Linked DNA regions of Homo sapiens. The protein of the gene in region 2 purifies or fractionates together with the protein of the main gene of each other region. This does not show direct contact. Each region holds a gene or a part of one and is shown on either strand. Other genes may lie near its edges. The genes, in order: SLC4A1AP, MTMR1, NADK, BPNT1, NEMF and NPEPPS.

What was found.
Region 1: the proteins of MTMR1 (region 2) and SLC4A1AP purify together in Homo sapiens (affinity purification with mass spectrometry, with the first as the bait; 2 studies listed by BioGRID). This does not show direct contact.
Region 3: the proteins of MTMR1 (region 2) and NADK purify together in Homo sapiens (affinity purification with mass spectrometry; one large-scale study listed by BioGRID and IntAct). This does not show direct contact.
Region 4: the proteins of MTMR1 (region 2) and BPNT1 purify together in Homo sapiens (affinity purification with mass spectrometry; one large-scale study listed by BioGRID and IntAct). This does not show direct contact.
Region 5: the proteins of MTMR1 (region 2) and NEMF purify together in Homo sapiens (affinity purification with mass spectrometry, with the first as the bait; one large-scale study listed by BioGRID). This does not show direct contact.
Region 6: the proteins of MTMR1 (region 2) and NPEPPS purify together in Homo sapiens (affinity purification with mass spectrometry, with the first as the bait; one large-scale study listed by BioGRID). This does not show direct contact.

The regions. Positions count from the first base shown.
Region 1 is NC_000002.12:27,673,418-27,678,081, reverse strand, and holds part of SLC4A1AP (kanadaptin), read right to left. Parts: intron 2,551-4,664; coding exon 2,390-2,550; intron 788-2,389; coding exon 718-787; intron 345-717; coding exon 158-344; intron 1-157.
Region 2 is NC_000023.11:150,730,809-150,735,472, reverse strand, and holds part of MTMR1 (phosphatidylinositol-3-phosphate phosphatase MTMR1), read right to left. Parts: intron 4,004-4,664; coding exon 3,854-4,003; intron 2,932-3,853; coding exon 2,743-2,931; intron 10-2,742; coding exon of another isoform or gene 1-9. UniProt on the Homo sapiens protein: Lipid phosphatase that specifically dephosphorylates the D-3 position of phosphatidylinositol 3-phosphate, generating phosphatidylinositol. Could also dephosphorylate phosphatidylinositol 3,5-bisphosphate to produce phosphatidylinositol 5-phosphate.
Region 3 is NC_000001.11:1,754,471-1,759,134, forward strand, and holds part of NADK (NAD kinase), read right to left. Parts: coding exon of another isoform or gene 4,631-4,664; intron 4,173-4,630; exon of another isoform or gene 4,062-4,172; coding exon of another isoform or gene 3,895-4,061; intron 3,665-3,894; exon of another isoform or gene 3,588-3,664; intron 2,841-3,587; coding exon 2,711-2,840; coding exon of another isoform or gene 2,637-2,710; intron 2,413-2,636; exon of another isoform or gene 2,309-2,412; intron 2,188-2,308; coding exon of another isoform or gene 2,139-2,187; coding exon 2,033-2,138; intron 1,874-2,032; coding exon 1,788-1,873; intron 1,007-1,787; coding exon 904-1,006; intron 229-903; coding exon 74-228; intron 1-73.
Region 4 is NC_000001.11:220,086,691-220,091,901, forward strand, and holds the start of BPNT1 (3'(2'),5'-bisphosphate nucleotidase 1), read right to left. Parts: upstream 3,099-5,211; 5' UTR 2,996-3,098; exon of another isoform or gene 2,954-2,995; intron 1-2,953. UniProt on the Homo sapiens protein: Phosphatase that converts 3'(2')-phosphoadenosine 5'-phosphate (PAP) to AMP and inositol 1,4-bisphosphate (Ins(1,4)P2) to inositol 4-phosphate. Is also able to hydrolyze adenosine 3'-phosphate 5'-phosphosulfate (PAPS) to adenosine 5'-phosphosulfate (APS).
Region 5 is NC_000014.9:49,842,172-49,846,835, forward strand, and holds part of NEMF (ribosome quality control complex subunit NEMF), read right to left. Parts: intron 4,095-4,664; coding exon 3,969-4,094; intron 1-3,968. UniProt on the Homo sapiens protein: Key component of the ribosome quality control complex (RQC), a ribosome-associated complex that mediates the extraction of incompletely synthesized nascent chains from stalled ribosomes as well as their ubiquitin-mediated proteasomal degradation.
Region 6 is NC_000017.11:47,533,825-47,538,488, reverse strand, and holds part of NPEPPS (puromycin-sensitive aminopeptidase), read right to left. Parts: intron 1-4,664. UniProt on the Homo sapiens protein: Aminopeptidase with broad substrate specificity for several peptides. Involved in proteolytic events essential for cell growth and viability. May act as regulator of neuropeptide activity.

The DNA.
Region 1 (4,664 bases), on a different chromosome or scaffold from region 2:
TTAGTTACTCTATGAAACCACTGCTTTCTGTGCTTTAAAGGGTTCCTTGCATTACATTTGTATTATATAATGATTATTTAAGAAGATAAAGCGATAATTGAAAATGTTATCTATGCTACCATACTTATTTAGAATTCCAAATATAACTAAGACTTACTTTTTTAGTTCTGGAATCTCTGCTGGCTTTACAATTTTTATTAACCCTTTAAGTCTCTGTTGTTCTTTCCTCAGTTCAAAAGTTCTCAGGTGAAGTTTCTTCCGGGACACACCATCTAATGTACTGCCTGATTTCATTTCTGACATGAACGCATCTAAAGAATCCTGAGATGGAGACTCTGATAGAACTGTCCAAGAAAAGAATAACACATGTTTAGAAAGATGATCCTGAATATTTTAAAATTCAGCCAAAGTTTCCATATAAAAGTCACTAACATAAAACCGGACAGAGGACATCACTAGTAATAGGAATAAGGAACAGGTTATAGCCATGAGACCTTGGGAAGTCATTTTGTCTCAATGTGCTTCATTCCCCTCAACAATTAAATAAAGAGGTTAAACCAAATGATTTATAATGTTCTTTCTAGTTCTAAAACGGTATGTTGCTCCTTTAAAAGGCTCCATATTCTGTATGGTATTTCTTATTAACTAATGTAGCCCCAGTGCCTAGCATAGAGCACTATATGTGGTATATTAATAAATATTTGATGAAAAACTTACCTTGGCTTGAGGCTTTCAATCTCTCAGAAATTTCAGAAAGTTCCCTTTCAGCATCATTTAATTTTGCAACCTGTAACACCCAAATCAACAGGGTTACAAAGTTTTTCTTCTTTCAAACTGTTTTTCATCCTCCTGTTTTAATTATTCTTACTAGAAGTTTTAAGAAGATTAATTCAAAAGTCCAGTTAAACTGCTACTTATGGAGTTAACACTTTTTTTTTTGTTTTGAGATAGAGCCTCATTCTGTTGCCAGGGTAGAGTGCAGTGGTGCAATCTCGGCTCTCTGCCACCTCCGACTCCCGGGTTCAAGCGATTCTCCTGCCTCAGCCTCCCAAGTAGCTGGGACTACAGGTGTGCACCACCACACCCAGCTACTTTTTGTATTTTTAGTAGAGACAGGGTTTCACCATGTTGGCCAGGATGGTCTCAATCTCCTGACCTCATGATCAGCCTGCCTCAGCCTCTCAAAGTGCTAGGATTACAGGTGTGAGCCACCACACCTGGCCAGAGTTAATAGTTTTTTTTTTTTTTTTTTGAGATGGAGTCTCGCACTGTCACCCAGGCTGCAGTGCAATGGCGTGATCTCGACTCACTGCAACCTCTGCTTCCTGCATTCAAGCAATTCTCCTGTCTCAGCCTCCAGAGTAGCTAGGACTACAGGCACACACCACCACGCCTGTCTAATTTTTGTATTTTTTTTTTTTTAGTAGAGGTGGGGTTTCACCACATTGGTCAGGTGGGTCTCGAACTCCTGACCTCAGGTGATCCACCGGCCTCAGCCTCCCAATGTGCTGGGATTACAGGCATGAGCCACCATGCCCAGCCAGGAGTTAACACTTTTTATGTGTTAAATCCAAATTTAATTTATTTCTGAATTAAAAAACACAGAATTAAACAGAATGAATAACTCGGACTTCATTTTACTCAGAAGAAAGAGCTCAAGGCATTTGTTTTCACATAAATCAAAAGGATAGATGTTGGGTAATGTTTTAAGCTCTGAATCCTACTATAAATTAATACCTGTAACAAATTCCTTGAAGTGCAATTGCTGAATCAATGCATTTTTAATACTGACAGATGTCGTAGGATTGATCACTTAAAAGGTTGTATTGTACATTCCCACCAATTGAGAGTCTACTTCTCCATATTCTGGTCAAGCTCTGCATTATTAATCTTATGTTTTTTTCTAGTCTAATAGGTAGCCTATTACCTGCCTATTATTGTCTGTTACCTACCCATTAACACGTCACCTTGTGATAATTTCCTGAAGAACATACTGTTTCAGACTACATATTACCATACTACATTCTTCAAAATTCCTTTGACTTCTCTTGACTGCCAGAAGGCTAAAGTCAATTTCACCTCAGAACGCCCTAACTTGGAACTTTTTCCTTTCCTTTTGAGAGAGGTAATATCATATCCAAAGAATGTTAATTAATGGATCAATATCCTGAAGGAAAGGATCTAGCAGCAAGCCATATTTTTTTCAAACAACTTGGATAAGACTAGTTGTCTGTTACCATTAAATTAACAGACCACAAAAGTTATACTTCAGTATCAGATTTCAATGCTACTACTTTAAAAATTATCATAAAACATATTTAAATAATACATTATGTTATTAAAAATTAAACTATTAAATACCACAGCTACTTCCATAAATAAAACTTGCCAATGATTCAAAGGTCTCTGGCTTCTCATCAATCTTGCCAGCCTTCTTCATTCTGTTCAGACGCTTCTTCTCAATCAGGCCAGTCCTATCAAGAAATGTGTCATCATCACTATCATAAAAGTCTTCATCTTCCCAGTTCTTGGCTTTCCTTTTCCGAGATACTAGAGGTAGATAAAATGATGAATAAATAAGTTTTTAAAAAAGAAAAGAAAAAGAAAGAAGGCAAGTAGGCAAGGAGCTTAAAATGTCACCATCAACTACTGAAAGAGAGGTTCTACAAGCTGCCAAACTACGTATAAAAACAAAGGGCTAAACCTTGAAGACATTATACTAAGTGAAATAAGCCATATATAAAAGGACACTTACTGCATCATGTGAGATACCTAAAGTAGTCAAATTCATAGAGACAGAAAAGTAGAATGGTGGTTGCCAGAGGCTGGGAAGGAGGGAGAATGAAGTTAGTGTTTAACAGATACCAATTTCAGTATGGAATGATAAAAAAGTTCCAAAATGAACAGTGTTGATGGTTCCATAATATTGTGAATGTACTTAATGCCACTGAGTGATACTCTTAAAATGCTTAAAATGGTACACTTTTCTGTTATGTATATTTTCCCACAATTTCTTATTAAATAATTTTTCATTAAAGCAAATAGTTAATTTATTTAATGAGCAAACGGCTTTTAAAAATCAATGAGGATGGCCAGGCATGGTAATCCCAGCACTTTGGGAGGCTGAAGGGGGATGGATCGCCTGAGGTCAAGACCAGCCTCACCAACATGGTGAAACCCCGTCTCTACTAAAAATACAAAAATTAGATGGGCATAGTGGCGGGTGCCTGTAATCCCAGCTACTCAGGAGGCTAAGGCAGGAGAATTGCTTGAACCTGGGAGATAGAGGTTGCAGTGAGCCGAGAAAGCGCCACTGCACTCCAGCCTGGGTGACAAGAGTGAAACTCTATCTCAAAAAAAAAAAAAAATCAATGAGGAAAAAAGGAAAATGAAAAATGAGAAAAAGGACAATAACCCAAAAGAAAATTTGAAAAAGGATAATGAAAGCAGTTCACAGAAAAATACAATAAATATTTTTAAATATGTTACTTTAAAAAAAAATAAAGTACAAATTTAAAAATTAGATACTTCTCATCTATTAGACTAGAAAAACATAAAAAGATTAATAATTGGTGGGAATGTACATTGATACAACCTTTTTGATGGTCAAGCCTACAATATCTGCCATTAAAAATGCATTGATCCAGCAATTCCACTTCTAGGAATTTATTCTATAAATATCAATGCAATAGTATTTATAACAGTGAATATGTAAAGAGTCCATCAATAAGAAACTATGACAGCTATTACTTTTTTGTTCACCCTACAACATTCTACTCCCTTTGTTCTGATAAAAGTACCTCTTTCCCCTAGAAAATTCCTCCCCCATTTTATCTGGTTTAGGGATAGTCATAGGACCAAAGCCAAATCAGTAAGACTCTTTCCCTCATATTTATATTTAGAGATGGGGCAAAGAGGCTCTCTTTACAATGAGGTTATTAAAGTGAGAGACTGTTAAGTTCAGGGCTGTAAGCAATCAGCTTTTCAGCACAGGGTAAGAATCTGTCTGCAAAGTTTAAAAATGCACTCGTGAGACAGACTCACTCACAGACACACACACACACACACACACACACACACACACACACACAACTTGTATATGTCCTGGTGATGCTGAGTCTACTTTGGTAGTACTAAGTTATGGTTTCAGAACTTGAGGTTCTGGTTCATGCAGTTGTTCCTTCACTCCTGTTCCTTCATCCTGAGCTATTCTTCCCAGCTTCTGCAGCCAATGACCTTTCCCCTAAGCTAGTTTGAATTGGACTTCTATTATTTGCAAGGAAAATAGTCCTTATTAATATAAGCCTAATTTGCAGGTTAAGATGGTACATTAAACACACATATCTAATTTCCCTCTTTCCCTAAATCCCAATAAACCATAGTAAAGAGATGTACCCACGCCTGGGCAACATAGCAAGACCTTGCCTTTACTAAAAATAAATCTAAAAAAAGTAGCTGGGCATGGTGGTGTGCACCTGTAGTCCCAGCTACTTAGGAGGCTGAGGCGGGAGGATCGCTTGAGCCCCGGAAGTTGATGCTGCAGTGAGCTGTGATCAGACCACTGCACTCCAATCTGGGCAGCATAGAGGAAAGAGAAGGAAGGAAGGGAGGAAGGAAAGAAGGAAGGAAGGAAGGAAGGGAGGGAGGGAGGGAGGGAGGGAGGG
Region 2 (4,664 bases):
ATACCAAAGCTAGACAAAGACATCACAAGAAGAGAAAACCACAGATTAACATCCCTTATGAAAATACATGCAAATATCCTCAACAAAATACTAGCAAACCCAATCCAAGAGTATATGAAGGGGACTGATCACATACCATGAACGGGTGGGATTTATCCCAGGAATGTAAGGAGGTTTTATTAGCTTCCTAAGGGTGCTATCACAAACTGGGGGACTTAAAACAACATAAAATTTATTCTCTCACAGTTCTGGAGGCTGAAAGTCCGAGATCAGGGTGCTGGCAGAGTTGGTTCCTTTAGGAGGGTATAGGGAAGAATCTGTTCCATGTCTCTCTCTTAGCTTCTGGTGGTTGCTGGAAGTCCTTGGCACTCCTCAGCTTCTAGCTGCATCATTTAAATCTCTGCCTCTATTGCCACATCGCCATCTTCCTTCTGTGTGTGCCTGTGTCTCTACATGGCTTTCTTATACGGACACTAGGCACTGGATTTAGGGCCAACCCTACTCCAAGATGGCTTCATCATAATTAATACATCTGCAAAGATCCTATTTCTAAATAAGGTCACATTCTGAGGTTCCAGTTGGACAAACTTTTGGGAGACATTTTTCAATCCACGACAGTGGTTCAACATATAAAAATCAACCAATGCAATACCAATGCAAGAAGAAGATATGAAAGGCAGCCAGATTGTAAAGGAAGAAGTCACATTATCTCGACTTGCATATGACATAATCTTATATATAAAGAACCAGTGGAGACCTAGAAAATACTGTTTCCTAGACACATATACTGCCATAGTTAAAATTATTCTAGATATACAATTTAGTGTCCTGTCTCTATCTCTCCTGCATGGGATAAAACACAATGAACTGCCCTCACCCTGTTGGCTAGTCTGAAGATGGCCTCCACCAATATGGCTTTTCTCACATTTTGTAATTCCTTGGGATATGGTGGTGACAGGTGGGAGGCAGAGATGTAGAAAGACTGACACAGCTAATGATCCAGATGTGGGGAGCAAGGGGGCCTCACTGAGGGATGCCTCCCTATGGTAGGCTGAAAAGTGGCCCCGCCAAAGACATCCACATCGAATCCCTGGCAATGGTGAATGTGACCTTATTTGAAGAGAAGGTCTTTGCAGATGTTTAAGGATCCTGAGATTTGCAGATGTGTTTAAGGATTCCAAGATTAATTGAAAAGAGGGTCTTTGCAGATGTGTTTAAGGATCCAGGATTATTTCAGGTGGAACCTAAATGTCATCACAAGTGTCATTAGAAGAGAAAGGAGGAGACGCAGAAACCCAGAGCAAGAGAGGGTCATGTGATGACGGAAGAAGAGATTGGAGTGATGTGGCTGCAAGCCCAGGAAGGCTGGGGCAGCCACCCCATGCTGGAAGAGGCAAGGAACAGATTCTCCCCTTGAACCTTTAGAGGGAGCAGAATTGGCCTCCAGAATTGTGATCAATACATTTCTGGTGCTGTAAGCCAACAAATTGGTAGTAATTTGTATGACAGCCTCAGAAAACTAATACTTCCCCATCTTCCTCCCTGCCCTGTTCCTCTCCCAGTCTTCCCCATCTCAGTAACAGACACCACTATTCACCCTCAAGTCAGACACCTGGGCAACACCCTTGACCACAGGGGTGGCGAGCTTATCAGCATCATGTACTGTGCCCTGAGGATGCACTCACCACTGTGCTAAGTCATTTACATGCATTCTTCTCACTGAATTTTAATCCTCACACAACCCATGACATGAGACACTGATATTATCTCCTGTTTTACAGAAGAGGAACCTGAGGCACAGAGAGAGGTTAAGTAACCGGCTCAGGATTCTAGAGCACCAAGTGGCAGAACCTGGAGGAAAACCCAGGTGTAACTGATTCCAAAGCCAAGGGGTCTCACCAACTTGCCATCGTGCCTCTCAGGCCAGTTGGAATATACGGAGGGTTTGTGGTCTGGGAAACAGCCAAGCAGAGATGTCAACCATACAATGGGATAGAAATCCAGTCTCAACCTTAGGAGGGATCAGGACAGGAGAGAAACTGCAGTGTCAAGCTCAAGTTGAACTCAGCATACAGACAGTGTTTAAAGCCGTGTCATCAGAGATGGCCCCAGGAGTCTGTGTAGAGCAAAGAGGACCCCAGACCAAGTTCGAGGAGCAATGCCATTTGAAGACTGGGAAGAGAAATCAGTGAAGGAGATGGAGAAGGCCAGGCTGAAGAGCGAGAGAAACTCAGGGTGTGATATCATGAAAGTCATGGGAACGGAGGTGTTTTTAACCATGTCTCACTGCCACCCGAGGTACACTACACAGGTGCTCCATGAGATTTATGGAAACTTTGTACATTTACACATTTCACATGGCTGATTCCATTCTAAAAGAAATTCAGACCAGACATGAATTAATCAACTAACCACTATATTCCTTAAACGGACTTCCAAGGACCTCACGATCATTTCATTAAAATGCTAAATCCTTTAGATGATAATTGTCTTTCTAGGTCTTTACTTAATTGATTTAGCAGACAGGATATTGTAGAGAAGCAATGAAACAGACAAGATCCCAACCCATGTGAGACACCAAACACAGCCCAAGGAGCATACACCAGGGAGGAATAGCTATGGGACTCCAAATGATTCTAACTTCAGGTGGTGAGGAAATCAATGAGTTATTCCAACTGCATAATGATTTACAGACAGGACATGAAAATATCCAGTGTTTCTGCAGTGCTATTAAGAATATACCTTGTTGGTATCAGCGACACTGTTTTGTCGAGCATCAAAGATGATAAGCTTGTGTGACTGTGCGTTAGCATCCATTATTGTTTGCAAGTATTTTTCATCCTCTTTGCAGCGCTTATCATTGGGACCCACAAGTGGCTGGCTGCAACGGGTAATCGTTGCTTGACTTTCCGGATGAATCCATGACAACACCTAGTGTTTTTAAGCAATAAATATTAGTACAGTTCCTAAAGAATGTATGCTCTAATTACCTGGTAGGAAAAACAAGTTCCCTTCTCAAGCACGGTCTCTTATACATATTTTCTTCAAAAGTGAGAGTGGGCAGGCCAATCACAGCATTGTAGTGGCCATCAGACTCAATGTTTTGGTCAGGATGAAACAATTCTGACTACATGAGCTCTAAAAATCCCCTTCCATCCCCAATATTCTATGATTCTAAGAAAAACAAATCCTAAATCAAACTATTACTAAAATCTAGCCCCATTCCAATTTGATTGACTAATTTTACCTTGTCTCCTAATTTTAAAAACATCTTTGTATCTCAACAATAATATACGTGGCAGGGTAAGGACAAAGTGAATATACAGTCTCTTATAAAATCTGACACTCTGCCACCCCACCTCTCATTTTCCTCCAGTGGCCAAGTGACTCAGGATTACAACAGATGCAAACTCTGGGCTCAAACCATTACTCCCAGCTGTCTGCTACTACTTCTGTAATGATGTCCCTCCCACGCAGCTATGGCATCATGCTCAGTATCTAAGAAAGAAGCATTTTCTCTAGGATGATTCAGTGAAACCAGCAATGCCAACTGGTAATACAATAGCATGATAACTTGTTGTTGCTACTCCTTTGTCATTCTCTACTACTTTTTGAGGGTATGACTGAAGTTCCCCTTATACTTAGTTATAGGAAATCGTAAAAGAGGGAGTCATAGCAAACAGATTGTTTATATAATTAGGTATTTGTTGAGAATCAAAGGTATGTTCAGGTTTATAAGCTTATTTTTCTGCTTTCCATTTTTGTTCACTAGTTTCTTTTTTGTCTTAAATCTCTCCATATTAGATCTAACGCAATATATATTCCTATATAAATGACAATGTTTATTACTTACAGGGACTCTGCCTTTTGCTCGAAAAGCTGCCACTTTTGAAAGGTCATCATCTTTTACACTAGTTGGCACAACAATGATGGCAGGGTAGGTGTCACAGAACTCATAATTACTGTTTATTTTGGATATTTTCCAACTCTCATTTGGCAAGCCCTGTAAGGTGTTGGAGAAAGAAGAAGAGGGTGAAATGCATGACTTTACACTTTGAAAAAGTACTAAGCATGAAGTACATCCATTTCTTATTTGCAACTAAAATCCGTTTATAATTTATTGTTTATTGTAACTTAAAAGTCAATATATATATTTATTCGGTAAAACCCATTTCCTAGACATTTCTAAAAATCTAAAGAAGCATAAGAATATCCAAACCATACTAAAACATGAAAATTATACGCTAGAATCACATTTCTATATATTTCTTGTCCTATTTTCTATAAATAATGAGCTCTGTTATTTTTGAGAATATACTCAAAAGTCCTTTAGAAACACAGATACCTCTTACGAATGTCTAAAATAAGTAACGTAAAACATTATACCAAATATAAGGTAGAGACAACGTCATGAAACAAACGTCATGAAAATAAGATCTTAGTGGAATAATTTGAAGCTGACAATGCACTGAAGAGTTCCCAGACCCGGGAACACTGGATCAGACAGATGTAGTCACACCACATGCTTCGAATCTAACTGTAGTCAGTGGTTTGGATCCTTACTCATCAATTCTTTACCAGAACATCTAATAAAAACCATCTGGCAAATTTGGTTTTTAAACCCGTCCTTGTCCTTGAGTCCCACTCACCCTCTGGAAACAGGA
Region 3 (4,664 bases), on a different chromosome or scaffold from region 2:
GAAGGTCCTCATCCCTGGGACCGAAGTCGCCCCACCCTGGGCCCCTCACCGAGGCCGAGGCGCCTCCACTCACCTGGTACTGCATGGCCTGCTTCCCGACATCCATGTCCAGGCCTGCAGCCTGCGAGCCGTTCTCACCCAGCCCATTGTGCACGGCCGTCTTCTTCCCCCGGAGCTCCTTCACCACCCTGACCTTCAGCCGACTCCGGAGAACAACAGCTGCGTTCCCTGAGGTCCAGCAGGAGTCAGAGGGCATGCATCAGGGAAGTCAGTGGGGTCAGGGGCCCCACCCCAGGGAGGCCAGTGGGAGTCAGAGGGCTCTTTCTTCTCCCAAGTTGACACACTTCTGTGCCTTTTTCTTTTTATTTTGAGATGGAGTCTCACTCTGTCACCCAGGCTGGAATGCAGTGGTGTGATCTTGGCTCACTGCAACCTCTGCCTCCCAGGTTCAAGTGATTCTCCTGCCTCAGCCTCCCAAGTAGCTGGAACTACGGGTGCGCACCACCACGCCCAGCTAATTTTTGTATTTTTAGTAGAGACGGGGTTTCACCGTGTTGGCCAGGATGGTCTCATCTCTTGACCTCGTGATCCGCCCGCCTCGACCTCCCACAGTGCTGGGATGACAGGCGTGAGCCACCGCGCCCGGCCGACACTTCTGTGCCTTCTGAGAGTGAGAATCAGCTCACTTCTGCCCAACACACATGGCAGCTTCAACCTGTGATCTGCTGAAACTTCTCAGTGTCAGTAAAAGGTTTGAACCACTCAAGATTTAGAAATCCCTGAATCTTGAAACCTTTAAATGTTGCTCCATGCATCATTAAATGAAAATAAACCCCCCGCAAGCAAGCGAGACAGCAGCGCCATGATCAGAGCTCCTGTGGGCTCCAGAACATTCCAACTCACCCTCTATCACCTGAGTAACTTGGGACTGAAAGTTCTCAAAGCTGAATGGGGTCAGGAAGCCCAGGGAGCCCAGGTGGAAGGCCATGACCGGAGGGACGCTGCCCTGTGAGCCGACGGAGAGGTCACTCAGTGCCCACGCCGTGCACCCCCGCACCACCCAGCTTTCCAGCAGCACCTCAGGAGGGACCCAGCTCTGTGGGGACAGCACCCCGACCCTCTGCAGGAGGGACTGGCCATGTGGACAAGCGGAGGGGGACGTCGCAGGCCAGGGTGGGCCGGGCCACCAGGGCCAAGGTTGGTGTGGGGAGCTGGTGAGGAACAAAGGTGGCAGGGCTGAGCGGCCCCCTGGGCACGGAGGGCTGGGGGAGCTGGCGAGGGCGGGTGGGAGGCAGCCTTGGGGTCGGAGCCTCGCGCCCCACAGGTGCTAATGGGGAGATGGGGAGAAAAGCAGGGCGGGCTGCGGGCATTTCCGGTGTCACCAACATGCAGTGGGCCAAGGGCAGAGCCAGGGTCCCCCACACAGCGTGGCCCTACAGCCCCAGGGGAGAGCTGTGCTGCTGAGAAACCAGGAAGAGGAGCTCAAGGGAGGCCCAGAGGGGATGGGCCAGTAGGCGAGGTCGTTTCCCAGGACCCACCACCCTGCGCCACTCCCTGCTGTCCCAGGCGGGCGCTGGCCACCCCCAGCCGTAGCACTGTGTCCACACTGCCCCTGGCCCCACCGTCGCACCCCACCGGGCTGCCACCATGGGCCTCAGTGCTGGCCGCTCTAGGTGACTGCTCTCGTATAAAGGGGTGAAAAGCAATGGAAGCCATGCTTGTGAGCCCCTCGTTACGCAGCACCTAGACTAGAACCTGGTGTGGGTCTGGAAATGTCAGCGCTTCACCTGGAAAAGCGAGGAAGCGTACAGCAGCGTCCCGTCTCCCCCCAGGCAGATGATGAAGTCTATCTGATTGGAAATGTCATCATAATCTAGGAAACACAAAGCAAAACCAAGAAGAGGCTGTCACACAGTGGCCCCTCTGTGGCGCAGTGCGCAGACACCAATGACAAGGGCAACAGTGCCAGAAGCTTCCAATGGGGCGGGGAACTGTGCTGGAGAAACCAAGGACAGAGCTGCTGACAGCCCACCTTCTCGAAAGGTACAGAATTTCTTCTTCACTGCCCCAAAGCTTTCATCGCTGGCGATGGCAGGGTCTTCTAGCACTTTCTTTTCCACATACACGATCATGTTCTCCTGGAAGCAAAGTGCCAACCTGCTCATTCCACCTGCAGACCCCACCCTCCTGCAGGGAGGTTCCCGACTCACGGGCGCTGTGGTCAGAGACCTGGCATCGTGGCCTGCATGCCCGCCCCCCCACGCTCACGCTGAAACTTCATCACCAACGCGCCAGGAGGAAGCAGGACCTTTAAGAGATGACTGGGCGGAGGGGGCTCCCTCTCAGGAATTGACTAAGGCTGTTATTTCAGGAGTGGCTTTCCTGGGCGCCGCAACCCCCACGCCTGCTCTTCTGAAGAGAAGACACAGCAGGAAGGCCCACGTCAGATGTGGCCCCTTGATCTCGGACTTCCCGGCCTCCAGGGCCACGAGCCCACCAGCTCATTGTTGGTCACCCAGTCTGGTGCTTGCCATGGCGGCACACACAAACCCAGACACCCGGCAGATCCCCACTCAGTCCCCAGTTCCAGACAAGCAGCCGTTGCCCAGCACTTGAGGTGGTTCCCATGGTCTCACGGGGCGGTGATGTGGATGGAGGCCCCCCCAACTCCATGTGCACCCCAGGCCCCCTTCCCCCCTGCCCCGCGTGCCTCCATGAGGTGCGTGCAGAGCTCCTTGAACGGCTGCAGTAGGCTGGCATCTCTCATCTTCTTGATGACAAGGACGCTCTTTGGGGACTTGTTCCACGTCAGCCGCTGGCTCGCGGGGTCCTGAATGTGCCTTTAGGGGAGGAGAAAAGAGTTCACACCAGCTGCGATCTCCCTCTTGCGGAAAAGGTGTATGACTTAGAAAATAAAAAAAAAAATCTTTAAAAAGGTGTTTTCACCTCCCAGGGAAACGTGCTCGGTGGCCACGGGCTCACAGGGCCTAGGGTCGCGCCACAGAGACAGGGTCAGGGGTCAGTAGGGTCCGGAGTGACCACCTCTCACCTGCTTGGCCCATCACACGCAGGCTCAGGCCCACAACCCCCACCCGGGCACCACGCTGACCCAAGTGCACGCACCACAGCCCTTCCCAGCCCCCGGCCACTTGCCTGCCTGGCTCCTCAGTGACGCTGGTGGGGCAGAAATGACCACGAAAGCCCATGGCTGGGCCACTCTTTGCTTGATGCCCTCCTCAGGCCCCCACGAAAACCCAAACCAGTTGACATGGTGACTCTGTCCCTAGGATCCTCTGCACACAGTTTCTGGCCCCACGGGAGCCCAGGACCCCTCAAGGACCCGCTTCCCCCCCTGCACACAGCTCACTACCTCCCTGCATGAACGGACTTTAACCTCACTCACTCTCACAGTAAAAATCACAGGTTTAAAAGTCCGTGGCAGCCCTGACACAGCCACCCGCGCTTTGCTGGCTCTGACCCCGACCACTGTGCCCGGTGTTTCTCCACAGGCAGGGCCCACCCCGGTGGGATTCCCATTACCACGTTAGTCACAGAAAACATCCCAGCCCAGAACCGGGAACACACACCACGGAGCCTGCTCCTGTTCCCAGAAGCCAAGGGAGGGCGCAGCGGGGCTGGCCACCGTCGTCAGCGCTCACCGCCTATCCTCAGCCCCAAAGGACAAGTTCTTATACCACCGCGCCAGCCAGCTAGTTCCAAGTTGCCCAATCGAGAAAGCTGCTGCCTGCCATGCCTCTTCCCAGCAGTGACTTCCCCAGGAGTGTGACCGTCCCACTAACACCCCCAGAACCACAACACAGACGCCGATGGCAGCCACAGGGCCACAGACCTTAGCCCATCGCTTGTGACCTTCGGAAGCTGGTCAGCACTCACCCTGTGCAGGCATTACTGGGAGGCGTGGGGTCACTCATGCCATCCCCTATGAGCTCAGCACCTGCCGGGTCACACATGTGGCTCGCGAGGTAGCCCCTGCCTGCTGGGAGCCGGCCAGTGTGTCCACAGCATCCAGGCCACGCTTGGCGAACACGCGGCCGCCCCATCGGTATGGTCCTGACTGTGCGCCCACACTAGAAGCCTAAGCTCTTCATACTCAAAACTCAAAGCAAAACACAATTGTGATGAGACTTGGTAAAGTTGTTGTAAAAGCAACTAAGTCAAAAGAGCTTCCTACACTTATAAAAATCAAACAAAACAAAACAGTTTCCTCATTGGTCACATGGTCCTCCTGCCTAATCCCTTCTGAAAAAAAGTCCTCAGTTCAGCAGCAAAGAGGCCACACTTCAGCTCCCTGCTCCTAACTGAGCCGGGTGGGACCAAGCCCTCTGTTCCCGTGGCCTCAGACCTGGCCAAGTACCCAGCCTCCAGCCTCGCCCCAGCACTGCGCCAGCCACCGCTCTGGCCCGCGGAACCGGCTGGGCCCCAGGGAAGGCACCCTCAGGCCACAGTCAGGTGGAAGGGCGTTCCCTGCCTCCTAGCCCGCTGCGTCACTCTGCTTGGCTCCGGCCCAAGGGCGTGCAGGTGGCTCACGGTCCTCCGGCCTGGTCAGCCAGCAAAGCCCCCGCCCTGCACACGGCTCCCCCTGCTCTCCCCGCCAACAGTCACCACTGACCCAGTGGCCTGGCCTACACCCATTCCAGCCCTGA
Region 4 (5,211 bases), on a different chromosome or scaffold from region 2:
TCAGCCTCTTGAGTAGCTGGGACTACAGGCACAAGCCACCATGCCAGGCTAATTTTTGTACTGTTAATAGAGATGGGGTTTCACCATGTTGGCCAGGCTAGTCTTGAACTCCTGACCTTGTGATCCGCCTGCCTCCCAAAGTGCTGAGATTACAGGTGTGAGCCACTCCGCCCGGCCTGAGTTGCTAAACTTAAAAAAAAAAAAAAATGAGCCGGGCATATTGGCGGGCGCCTGTAACCCCAACTTCTTGGGAGGCTGAGGCAGGAGAATTGCTCGAACTTGGGAGGCGGAGGTTGCAGTGAGCCGAGATGGTGCCACTGCACTCCAGCCTGGGCGACAGAGCAAGACTCCGTCTCAAAAAAAAAAAAAAAAAAAGTTGAGTCCTTTTTGCATTCTTTTGATATTTTGATATAAATACATTTTGATATAAATACATTTCAATGCATGGTTTATAAAAGTAAAAAAAGAAACCATAAAAGCATGGAAATAAAAATTATAAACTTCATAAGCTTGGTAAATGCCCTTTAAGCATAAAACCAAGAATCCATAAAATATTCTATTGATAAATTTGACTCTATAAAACTAAGAGTTGCTGGGCGCGGTGGCCTGTAATCCCAGCACTTCGGGAGGCCAAGTCGGGCGGATGACGAGGTCAGGAGTTCAAGACCAGCCTGACCAACTTGGTGAAACCCTGTCTCTACTAAAAATACAAAAATTAGCCGGGCTTGGTGGCACGCGCCTGTAATCCCAGCTACTCAGGAGGCTGAGGCAGGAGAATTGCTTGAACCTGGGAGGTAGAAGTTGCAGTGAGCTGAGATCATTTGCACCATTGCACTCCAGCCTGGGTGACAGAGCGAGATTCCGTCTCAAAATCAATCAATCAATAAATAAAAATAAAATTAAAACTTCTACATGGCCAAAATACCATAAACTAAATAAACAGGTACTTGACAAAATGAGAAAAAAATATTGTATCACATACCAGACAAATGACTTAATTTGTAAAAGATCAGTATATAAAAGCTGAATAATCCAATAGAAAAATGAGCAAATAAACAAGAACGGGCAACACCTACAAAGAGAAAAGCACTGGCCATTAAATACATAAATACTCAGCTTCACTAATTATGAAAGAAATGCAAACTAAAACAATGAGAAATGATTATTTTATTTTTAATTAATTAATTAATTTATTTATTTTTTGAGACAGAGTTTTTGCTCTTGTTGCCCAGGCTGGAGTGCAATGGCGAGATCTTGGCTCACCGCAACCTCTGCCTCCCGGGTTTAAGCGATTCTCCTGCCTCAGCCTCCCGAGTAGCTGGGATTACAGGCAAGCATCTCCACACCTGGCTAATTTTGTATTTTTAGTAGAGACAGGGTTTCTCCATGTTGGTCAGGCTGGTCTCGAACTTCCGACCTCATGGCCTGCCTAAGCCTCCCAAAGTGCTAGGATTACAGGCGTGAGCCACCGCGCCGGGCCATGATTGTTTATTTTTAAGATTGGCATAGAAAAGAAAATTTGGCAGGGCACGGTGGCTCACACCTGTAATCCCAGCACTTTGGGAGGCCAAGGCAGGTGAATCACCTGAAGTTAGGAGTTCAAGACTAGCCTGGCCAACATGGTGAAACCCCATCTCTACTAAAAATACAAAAATTAACCAGGCATAGTAATACAAAAATTACTCAGGAGGCTGAGGCAGGAAAATTGCTTGAACATAGGAGGCAGAGGTTGTGGTGAGCCGAGATCGCGCCACTGCAGTCCAGCCTGGGCGACAGAGACTCCGACTCAAAAAAAAAAAAAAAAAAAAAAATTGTCGCTGAATGCAGTGGCTCACACCCGTAATCCTAGAACTTTTTGGGAGGCCAAGGCTGGTGTATTGCTTGAGCTCAGGAGTTCGAGACCAGCCTGGGCAACATGGCAAAACCTCGTCTCTACAAAAAAATGCAAAAATTAGATGGTGTGGTGGCACATGCCTGTAGTCCCAGCTGCTCGGGAGGCTGAGGTGGGAGAATCACCAGACCCTGGGAGGTCAAGGTTGCAGTGAGACATAATGGCACCACTGTACTCCAGCCTGGGGGACAGAGCTAGAACCTGTCTTAAAAAAAAAAAAAAAAGAAAGAAAGAAAGGCTGGGCGCGGTGGCTCACGCCTGTAATCCCAGCACTTTGGGAGGCCGAGACGGGCAGATCACGAGGTCAGGAGATCGAAACCATCCTGACTAACACGGTGAAACCCCGTCTCTACTAAAAATACAAAAAAAATTAGCCAGGCTTGGTGGTGGGCGCCTGTAGTCCCAGCTACTCGGGAGGCTGAGGCAGGAGAATGGCGTGAACCTGGGAGGTGGAGCTTGCAGTGAGCCGAGATTGCACCACTGCACTCAAGCCTGGGCGACAGAGCGAGACTCCGTCTCGAAAAAAAAAAAAAAAAAAAAAAAAGAAGGAGGAGGAAGGAGGAGGAAGAAGAAGAAGAAAAAAGAAGAAAGAAGAAGAGTTTGTCCTTTGTCCAGTTTGCAAGGGTGTGAGGGAACATGTTCCTGAGCATTGTTGGCAAAGCGGTGAACCCTCTTAGGAGAGTTTTGAGAACCTTAATAAAAGTATAAAGTACGTATCTTTTGAACCAACAATTATATTTACAGAGAAATCCAAATAAATCACGCAAACCTATAAATATGTAGAAATGGCAGTTGGAAGAATATTTGCTGTTTAAAGAAATTTAATTTTAGGTACCAAGCAGTTTCTAAATTTGGGTGCATCAACAAACTCAATGTCTAGGTTTGTCTTGTTTCTACAGTATATGGCTATAAAAACCTTCCGGATCACGAAAATAAAAGCACAGATAAACAATTAAAATATCGACACTCAAGAGTCCAAGTCGGAAGTTAGAATATCTGGAGAAGCAATCTGATTCACATAAACCTTTTTCGTTTTATTTTTTTAACATAAATCCTATCTACCTGGCTCTTGCCCTGACCGGCCGGAGAGAAACGGTGACAAACCTGGAACAACGTTGGACCAAAGACACTTCAGGAGGAGCAAAAGCGCGTTATCGTAGACCCAGGTCCCTCGTTGTGTCCAGTACCGAGCTTTGGCACTGTCAATAAGTCTTTTGAGAAGGATGGCATCCCTACCTCAGCTACTGAGCATGCGGGAAACTGCGCGCAAGCGCACAACAGCGATTTCACACTGCCTCTTTAGACTCCTGATCCGCGGGAAAATTCCACTTGTCCGTGTTTTCTCCAAGCTCTCCGTAGGTGCAAGTCACCTGTTGCATTAAATAAAAGCGAAAGATGTGTCAACTTTCAAAGATTGGCTAAAAAAAGAAAAAGAAGAAGGAAAGAACACATTAAGCCAGCAACAGTGTGTTGAAACAAAAAAAAGATTGGTTTTGGTTTCAGCTGTCTTCCAGCCCACTTCGTAGAGTTCACTGTTTTAAAATGTTCTTTGTATTAGTGATACCACTCTGCGGCTATTTAACTTCGAACCCCTAGCGGTCCGTGGACAGGCTTCAGCAGGTCCACCACACACACCTCCACCTCCCACTCCCCACGCAATAACACAGCAACTTTATGCAGAATTGTGTCAAAGATGCTTGCTTACCTTTTTTTTTTTTTTTTTTTTTTTTTTTTTAAGCGATAGATAGCTTGCTCTGTCGCCCAGAGTCGATTACGGCTCACTGCTGCCTTCCCACTTCTAGGCTCAAGCCATCCTCCCGCCTCAGCCTTCCGTGTAGCTGGGACTACTGGTGGAGGTGCGCGCCACCACACCCAGCTAATTAAAATATTTTTTGTGTACAGATGGGATCTTTTACTGGGGGGCGTGGTTGGGGAAGGGGGCAGTGTCTCATCCTGTCGCCCAGGCTGGAGTGCAGTGGCGCAGTCTAGGTTCACTACAACCTCCTCCTCCTGGGTTCAAGCGATCCTTCCTCCTTAGCCTCCCAAGTAGCTAGGACTACAGGCGCGCCACCACGCCGGGCTAATTTTGTTTGTTTTTTAAGTAGAGACGGGGTTTCATCATATTGGCCAGGCTGGTCTTGAACTCCTGACCCCAGGTGATCTGCTCACCTCGGCCTCCCAAAGTGCTGGGATTACAGGTGTGAGCCACTGCGCCCAGCTTAAAAAGGCTTTTACGTCTTCATTTGATTTTCACAATAACTCTGTGAGTTAAGTAGACCCTTTTTGGGAAGTGGAAAAATATACATAACTTAAATTATATTACTTTAACCATATATATATATATATATATATATATATATATATATATACACACACACACACACACACATATATACATATATATATTTTTTGAGACGGCGTCTTACTCTGTCGCCCAGGCTGGAGTGCAATGGCTTGATCTCGGCTCACTGCAACCTCTGCCTCCCAGGGTTCAAGCTATTCTCCTGCTTCAGCCTCCTGAGTAACTGGGACTACAGGCGCACACCACCCAGCCCAGCTAGTTTTTGCATTTTTTTTTTTTTTAGTAAAGACGGGGTTTCACCATGTTGGCCAGGCTGGTCTCGAACTCCTGACCTCATGATCCGCCCGCCTCGGCCTCCCAAAGTGCTGAGATTACAGGCATGAGCCACTGCACCTGGCCATACTTTGGTTTTTATAATTAAATTGTATAATTACATGACAAGTACAAATGGCTTAAATAAAGACAAACATAATGCAAGGTAAGCTCAACAAGTGAGAATAGAAATCTGCAGTCATCCTAAAGAGTAGCCATCTCCCAAGTGTTCATTGTATCCTCTCATAGGTTTTACGAGAAAACGGCATAGTTGAATTCAGCAAGTTATGTAGAGGTTGGTTAGGAGAGTTTCTATGTAAATATATCTTTGTGCTCCTGGAAGACTATAGCTGTGATAGATCCCAGATGTGAAACCGTGGGTCAAAGATGAAGTGCATTTTATTTTATTTTTTGGAGATGGAGTCTCGCTCTGTCGCCCAGGCTGGTGTGCAGTGGCCTGATTTCTCACTGCAACCTGTGCCTCCTGAGTTCAAGCGATTCTTCTGCCTCAGCCTCCAGAGTAGCTGGGATTACAGGCGCCTGCCACCACTCCCGGCTAATTTTTTGTATTTTTAGTAGAGACGGGATTTCACCATGTTGGCCAGGTTGGCCAGGCTGGTCTCGAACTCCTGAACTCAGGTGATCCACTTGCCTCAGCCTCCCAAAGTGCTGTGGTTACAGGCGTGAGCCACCGCGCCCAGCTGAA
Region 5 (4,664 bases), on a different chromosome or scaffold from region 2:
TAAAAGTTAGGGAAATTAAATTATGATAGCTCAACACAACAAAATAGTAGAAAGAGGTTACCTAATGGAAACAATGTTAGAAAAAAAGGAAAACATAAATAATGTTAGGTAAAACATAGCAAAGACACACAAAAAAGTTATATCCTAGAAAATGGAAGGCATATGTAGGCTAAAATGAAATTACTTCTTAAAGATTTAGAATTAAAGACTTTTTAAAATTTAATATTGCTAGATAACCTTTTCAATAAAAAAGAAGGGGGAACATAATGAAAATAAAGCTAACGAAAGAATACCACCTTCCAAATTTATTACTGACAGTGAAGATCAGAGTTACTCTACAGGTATAATTAAAATACAAAGAAGCATCCATGAAAACAGTCAAAAATGCCTTACAACTGTTTACAAGATAGTCACAGAATACGGTGGGAGTAATCCCAAATTCATCTGAAATGACAGGTTGCAATGTAAGTGGCTTCAGTAAATGTAGCCACCATTTACGTTGGTTAGAGAGATAGATAACCAGAAATTACTAAGTGCTGAAAAACTAGTAGCAGGCCAGGCGCAGTGGCTCACGCCTGTAATCCCAGCACTTTGGGAGGCCAAGGTGGGCAGATTATCTGAGGTCAGGAGTTCAAGACCAGACTGGCCAACATGGTGAATCCCTGTTTTACTAAGAGTACAAAAACTAGCTGGGCGTGGTGGCAGGTGCCTGTAATCCCAGCTACTCGGGAGGCTAAGGCAGGAGAATCGCTTGAACCCGGGAGGCGGAGGTTGCAGTGAGCCAAGATCACACCACTGCACTCCAGCCTGGCGACAGGGTGAGACTTATTCTCAAAAAAAATTAAAAAATAAAAAAAAAGAAAGAGTAAAAACTCAGGTTAGAGTAGAAAAGGACATTTACTACACAAATAATCAGCAAAGGGCTCATAATCAGATTAGATAAAGAGCTCTAAGAGATCATATCAAATGTTGCTAAGGATGTGGAGCTAAGGGAATTTTCAACATCAATGAATCTCACAGACATTATATATTGAATAAAAGAGCCAGGCGTGGTGGCTCACCCCCGTAATCCCAACACCTTAGGAGGTTGAGATGGGAAGATTGCTTGAGCCAGGGGTCCAAGGTCAGCCTGGGCAACGAAGTGAGAGTCTGTCTCTACAAAAAATAAAAAAATTGGCCAGGCATGGTGGTGCACATCTGTGGTACCAGCTACATGAAAGGCTAAGGCAAGAGGGTCACTTGAGCCCAGGAGGCCGAGTTTGCAGTAAGCCCTGATCATGCCACTGAATTCCAGCCTGGCCAACAGAGCAAGACTCTATCTCAAAAAAATAAAAAATATTGCATAAAAGAAGGCAGACCCAATGTCATGCATTGCTTAACAATGGGGATACATTCTAAGAAATGCATTTAGGCAACTTCGATGTCGTGTGAACGTAATAGAGTATACTTACACAAACCTAGACGGTGTAGCCTAATACATCCACCAAAGATATGATATAACCTATTGCTCCTAGGCTAGGAATCTGTATAGCATGTTACTGAATACTGTAGTCAACTGTAATACAATAGCAAGTATTTGTGTATCTAAGTACATCTAAATATAGAAAAAGTACAGTAAAAATATGGTATTACAACAACAGTTCCAGGCCGGGCGCAGTGGCTCATGCCTGTGATCCCAGCATTTTGGGAGGCCAAGGCGAGCAGATCACCTGAGGTCAGGAGTTTGAGAACAGTCTGGCCAATATGGTGAAACCCCATCTCTACTAAAAATACAAAAATTAGCTGGGCATGGTAGTACATGCCAGTAATACCAGCTACTCAGGAGGCTGAGGCACTAGGATTGCTTGAACCCGGGAGGCAGAGGTTGCAGTGAGCTGAGATCACACCCTTGCACTGCAGCCTGGGCAACAAAGTGAGACTCTGTATCAAAAAAAAAAAACCAAAACAAAACAAAAAAAAAACCGCAGTCCCCAGCCTTTGGCACCAGGGACCAGTTTCATGGAAGACAATTTTTCCATGGATGGGGGGTGCAGGGGTATGGTTTCCGGATGAAACTGTTCCACCTCAGATCATCAGGCATTAGATTCTCGCAAGAAGCATGCAACCTAGATCCCTTGCATGCACAGTTCACAATAGGGTTCACGCTCCTATAAGAATCTAATGCCACCACTGATCTGACAGGAGGCAGAGCTCAGGTGAGTAATGCTCACTCGCATACTGCTCACCTCCTGCCGTGTGGCCTGGTTCCACAGACCAGTTCCAGTCTGCGGCACAGGGGTTGAAGATCCCTGGTATAAAAGATTAAAAATGGAACACCTGTATAGGGCACTTACCATGAATGGAGCATGCAGGACTGAAAACTGCTCTGGGTGAGTGACAGTGAGTAAATGTGAAGGCCTGGGACATTACTGCATACTACTGTAGACTTGATAAATACTGCACACTTGGGCTACACTAAATTTGTTTTTTATTTTTTAATTTTTAAAAAAATTATGCTTACCTCAGACCAGATTAAATTTATGTATTTATTTATTTATATACATACACACGCACGCGCACGCGCGCGCACACACACACACACACACACACACACATATATTTTTTTTTTCCTTTTTGAGACTGAATCTCACTCTGTCACCTGAGCTGGAGTACAATGGCATGATCTCAGCTCACTGCAACCACTGCCTCCCAGGTTCAAGTGATTCTCCTGCCTCAGCCTCCCGAGTAGCTGGGACTACAGGCACGCACCACCACACCAGGCTAATTTTTGTATTTTTAGTAGAGATGCAGTTTTGCCACATTGGGCAGGCTGGTCTCAAACTCCTGACCTCAGGTGATCCACTCGCCTTGGCCTCCCAAAGTGCTGGGATTACAGGTGTGAGCCACCACACCTGGCCCAGATTAAGTTAGTTAGTTAGTTAGTTAGTTAGTTTATTTTTGAGACAAAGTCTTGCTCCGTTGCCCAGGCTGGAGCACAGTGACACAATCTGAGCTCACTGGAACCTCTGCCTCCCAGGTTCAAGTGATTCTCCTGCCTCAGCCTCCCGAGTAGCTGGGATTATAGGTGCCCGCCACCACGCCCAGCTAATTTTTGTATTTTTTAATAGAGACGGGGTTTTGCCATGTTGGCCAGGCTGGTCTTGAACTCCTGACCCCAGGTGATCTGACCCCAGGTGATCCGCCCTCCTCGGCCTCCCAAAATGCTAGGATTACAGGTGTGAGCCACTGTGCCCGGCCTGAGTCATTGCGCTCAGCCAAATTTATTTTTAAGATGTTTTTCTTTCTTCAATAATAAATTAACCTTTGCTTCCTGGAACTTTTTTACTTTATAAACTTTAAACTTTTTAGCTTTTTGACTCTTGTAATAACACTTAGCTTAAAACACATATCGTACAGCTGTACAATACTTTCTTTCTTTAGATCCATATTCTCTAAGCTTTTTTTCCATTTTAAATTGTTTTGTTTTTACTTTTAATGTTTTTGTTAAAAACTAACACACAAACTCACACACCAGCCTAGGCCTACACAGAGTCAGGATCAAGATGTCACTAAGCAGTAAGAATTTATTAGATCCATTACAATGTTACAGGACCAACGTTTATATGCAGTCTGTTGTTGACTGAAACATCACTATACATACAGCGCATCAGTGCATGACCGTATTTGACTATTTTCTGGTTGCATATTAGTCCTGAAATGTCAAGTACCAAATAATTTACTTCTCAGATCTTCATCTCCTACATTCATAAGGCTATTCTAAATGGCTAAAGTCTGCCTAAACTCAGACCTACAGATAAAATGAAGGTTATTACTGGAAAATTTTATTTTATTTGTGTGGCACCCATTTCCTAGGGTAGTAACAACCTTTGACACAGAAAAAAAATGTTCCCCCACTCATGTTATATAGCACTATTACAAAATGATTAATAAGAAATTTTCCTTCACCATATCCCACAAATTTAACTTACCCTATCATAGAGCTCAATGATTAAATGGTAAGCAGCTTCATCACTTCCAAATTGAAAATCTACAATTCTATCCACACCAAGCTGTTTTGCACTGACTAATCTCCGACTCTTCAAATGTTTTCGGCACTAGCAAGAGAAAGAAAAAGGCATTCATTTAGTAAAAGTGAATTCCTAACCATTTGGTATTGGTTTATAAATAAGCTTCTTTTCATTATCATCAGGAATATTTAAAACGTTGTGAATAACAGTATAGTCATAAAGTAATAGATTGCAGATGATAATCAGAGGGAAAACATTTTATTATAAACACTAACTCTGAAACAGTGTTTTATTTGCATTTTTTTAAGACAGGGTCTCACTCTGTCACCCAAACTGGAGCCCAGTGGTGTGATCATGGCTCGCTGCAGCCTCGACTTCCCTGGCTCAGGTGATCCTCCTGCATCAGCCTCCTGAGGATTGGGACCACAGGCACATGCCACTATCCCCAGCTAATTTTTTCATTATTTGTAGAGACAGGGTCTCACTATGTTGCCCAGGCTAATCTCAAACTCCTGGGCACAAGCAATCCTCCTGCCTTGGCCTCCCAAAGTGCTGGGATTACAAGCGTAAGCTACTGAGCCAGGCTTTTATTTTCAATTTTTAAGTAGAGAATGATGGACCTATAGCAAAATTTGCTTTGTTGCTTTATACCACTGC
Region 6 (4,664 bases), on a different chromosome or scaffold from region 2:
TAATCCCAGCACTTTAGGAGGCAGAGGCAGGCGGATCACCTGAGGTCGGGTGTTTGAGACCAGCCTAGCTAACATGGCGAAACCTGGTCTCTAGAAAAATACAAAAATTAGCCAGGTGTGGTGGCATGCACCTGTAATCCTAGCTACTAGGGAGGCTGAGGCAGAAGAATCCCTTGAACTAGGGAAGTGGAGGTTGCAGTGAGCCGAGATCGCACCACTGCACACTCCAGCCTGGCCTAGGCAACAGAGTGAGACTCTGTCTCAAAAAAAAAAAAAAAAAAAAAAAGAACAGATATGGCTAGGCGCGGTGGCTCACACTTGTAATCCCAGCACTTTGGCAGGCGGAGGCAGGCAGATCACCTGAGGTCAGGAGTTCAAGACCAGCCTGGCCAACATGGTGAAACCCTGTCTCTACTAAAAATACAAAATTAGCCAGGCGTGGTGGTGCATGCCTGTAATCCCAGCTACTAGGGAGGCTGAAGCAGGAGAACTGCCTGAACCTGGGAGGCGGAGGTTGCAGTGAGCCGAGATTGTGCCACTGCACTCCAGCCTGGGCAACAGAGCGAAACTCCGTCTCAAAAAGAAAAAAAAAAGAAAAAAAAAAACAGATATGAAACTGATAAATTATAGTACATAGTTTGGGGTCAATGAGAGATGTTCAAAATAAAGTTCAGTATTTAAAAAAAACAATGAAACAAACCTACACTATGAGGAATTGCAAAGCATAAAAAGATAATGTATTTTAGAAATATTTCCATTCAGATTAGTCAACTTTTTTTTTTTTTTTAAAGACAGGGTCTCGCTGTGTCACCCCGGCTGGAGTGCAATGGCGTGATCTCAGCTCACCGCAACCTCCGCTCCTCCGCTTCCCGAGTTCAAGCAATTCTCCTGTCTCAGCTTCCCGAGTAGCTGGGATTACAGGCATGTGCCACCACGCCCGGCTAATTTTTGTATTTTTTTGTAGAGACGGGGTTTCACCATGTTGTCCAGGCTGGTCTCAAACTTCTGACCTCATGATCCACCCACCTCAGCCTCCCAAAGTGCTGGGATTACAGGCGTGAGCCACCACACCCAGCCTAGTAAACTTTTTTAAAAATGTCTAAGGGCCTCAAAGGGTAAACTTCAGTTATCTGGAAAATTCACTGCAGAATTCATTGCCAGATGAATTAGACAAAGCTTAGCATACAAAACTGTTATACTTCTTTCCTCACAGATACATTTCAAAAAACAGAAAATCTGAACAAATTCAATTCCTTATCACCAATATTTTGAATTTAATTTTATATATATGAATTTTTTTTAAGAAAATTTCTTCCTTTTTTTTTTCCTGGAGACAGGGTCTTGCTATGTTGCCCACACTGGTATCAAACTCCTGTGCTCAAGCAATTCTCCCACCTCCACCTCCCAAAGTGCTAAGATTACAGGAGTGAGCCACAGTGTTGGCCAAAATGATTACATAGAAAATATGCAGAAAATGGCCAGGCACGGTGGCTCATGCCTGTGATCCCAGCATTTTGAGAGGCCAAGGCGGGTGGATCACCTGAGGTCAGGAGTTTGAGACCAGCCTAGCCAACATGATGAAACCATCTCTCTACTAAAAATACAAAAAATTAGCTGGGCTTGGTGGTGCGCGCCTGTAATCCCAGCTACTCTGGAGGCTGGGGCAAGAGAAACACTTGAGCCTGGGAGGCAGAGGTTGCGGTGAGCCGAGATCGCGCCATTGCACTCCAGCCTGGGCAACAAGAGCAAAACTCCGTCTCAAAAAAAAAAAAAAAAAAAAAAAAGAAGCCAGGCACGGTGGCTCGGTGGCTCACGCCCATAATCCCAGCACTTTGGGAGGCTGAGGTGGGTGGATCACCAGAGGTCGGGAGTTCGAGACCAGCCTGACCAACATGGAGAAACCCCGTCTCTACTAAAAACAGAAAAAATTAGCTGGGCGTGGTGACGCATGCCTGTAATCCCAGCTATTTGGGAGGCTAAGGCAGGAGAATTGCTTGAACCTGGGGGGGCAGAGGCTGCGGTGAGCCGAGATCATGCCACTGCACTTCAGCCTGTGCAACAAGAGCGAAACTCCATCTCAAAAAAAAAAAAAAAAAAAAAGAGAGAAAATATGCAGAATTTGGGCAAAAAATTTGTAACACAGAATTGACAATAACCATTCAGGTGCCAAATTTTTAATCTGCCAAACAAACTACTATATTGGCAACTATTCACTTAGTGCCAATTTAGTTATCTCCAACATGTATATTTTGTTAGTAGAGGCCAGGGGTTGGCTAGGATATCCTGATTTCTGGCCTTGAATGATAAACTTAGTTTCTCTGGCACAGGTAAAATATTTCCATAAGAGAAAGCCCAGCTGGGCACGGTGGCTCACGCCTGTAATCCCAACACTTTGGGAGGCCGAGGAAGATGGAATGAGGTCAGGAGATCAAGACCATCCTGGCCAATATGGTGAAACCCCATCTCCACTAAAAATACAAAAAAATCAGCCAGGCATGGCGGCGCGTGCCTGTAGTCCCAGCTACTCAGGAGGCTGAGGCAGGAGAATTGCTTGAACCCGGGAGGCAGAGGCTGCAGTGAGCCAAGATCCCGCCACTGCACTCCAGCCTGGGTGGCAGAGCAAGACTCCATCTCAAAAAAAAAAAAAAAAAAAAAAGAATACCCAATTATTGTACCAACCACTACACACTCATAATCATAAATAGTAGTCACACACATAAACTTATAATTCATTTTAATTAATTATCCACAAACGGAGAGGATCAAAATATGAAATATCTACAAAAGTCCACTGCTCTCAAGTATCCAGTGTAAAGGGAGGGGACAGGGAATGAAATAAATTTTGGGCCTAGAGAAACTTCTGTATAATAACAAATTTTCAAAACCAGCTAGACCACACTAATGTGAAAGACAACTAATTTTTTTTTTTTTTTTTTTTTGAGACGGAGCCTCGCTCTGTCACCCAGGCTGGAGTGCGTGGCGCGATCTCGGCTCACTGCAAGCTCCGCCTCCCGGGTTCACACCATTCTCCTGCCTCAGCCTCCCGAGTAGCTGGGACTACAGGCACCCGCCACCACGCCCGGCTAATTTTTTGTATTTTTAGTAGAGGCGGGGTTTCACTGGGTTAGCCAGGATGGTCTCGATCTCCTGACCTCATGATCTGCCCGCCTCTGCCTCCCAAAGTGCTGGGATTACAGGCGTGAGCCACCGCGCCCAGCCTTTTTTTTTTTTTTTTTTTTTTTTTTTGAGACAGAGTCTTGCTCTGTTGCCCAGGCTGGAGTGCAGTGGCGCAATCTCAGCTCACTGCAAGCTCCGCCTCCCAGATTCACGCCATTCTCCTGCCTCAGGCTCCTGAGCAGCTGGGACTACAGGCTCCCGCCACCACGCCCAGCTAATTTTTTGTATTTTAGTAGAGATGGGGTTTCACCGTGTTAGCCAGGATGGTCTCGATCTCCTGACCTCGTGATCCGCCCGCCTCGGCCTCCCAGAGTGCTGGGATTACAGGTGTGAGCCACCGTGCCCGGCCAAGACAATTGATTTTTAAATCACTGAACATGGACTAATTTCTTCACCTTCTGCAGCAGTCCACACCCCAGGCCAGGTTAAAAATCCACTAAGTTGGCCGGGCATGGTGGCTCATGCCTATAATCCCAGCCCTTTGGGAGGCCAAGGGAAGGGGATCACCTGAGGTCAGGAGTTCGAGACCAGCCTGGCCAACATGGCAAAACCCCATCTCTACTAAAAATACAAAAATTAGTTGGGCGTGATGGCACACACCTGTAGTCCCAGCTACCCAGGAGGCTGAGGCAAGGAGACTCGCTTGAACCCGGCAGGGGCACAGGGTGGAGGCTGCAGTGAGTCGAGATCACACCACTTCACTCCAGCCTGGGAGAAAGAGCGAAACTCCATCTCAAAAAAATAAAAATAAAAAATAAAATAAATCCACTAAGTTTCTAATATGTAACCTACACAAATACTCTGGGCTTATCGTAAAATTTTGTAACTAAAGCAACTAAGCAACTTGCATGTTTTGTGTTATGTGATTCCAACTGTTAGGAAACTGATCCAATATCAGTCATAAATATAGGTTTCTACAGATAAGAATTTTGTCGCCGGGCACAGTGGCTCACGCCTGTAATCCCAGCTCTTTAGGAGGCCAAGGCGGGCAGATCACGAGGTCAGGAGGTCGAGACCACAGTAAAACCCTGTCTCTACTAAAAATACAAAAAATTAGCTGGGTGCAGTGGCGGGCACCTGTAGTCCCAGCTACTTGGGAGGCTGAAGCAGGAGAATGGCGTGAACCCGGAAGGCAGAGCTTGCAGTGAGGCGAGATCGTGCCACTGCACTCCAGCCTGGGCGACAGAGCGAGACTCCATCTCAAAAAAAAAAAAGAATTTTGTCAATATTTTAAAATGCCCACAAGATACCACCTAATGCCACAATTTAAACGTATTGCTCTAATTCATGGATTTCAAAAACATTAATATATGCTTTTTACTTCTTACCAATGTTAATTCCTCTTTTACCCTTCCAAACATGTCAATTAGTACAATTTAAAAGTCCAATCATCCTTTAATAAAACCTGTTGGAATTCACTATTGTGTCATCTTTGTGTTGCCATCTAGCCTGAAAAGAATTTCTGGAAAAAAAGTGTTTTGAAAAGT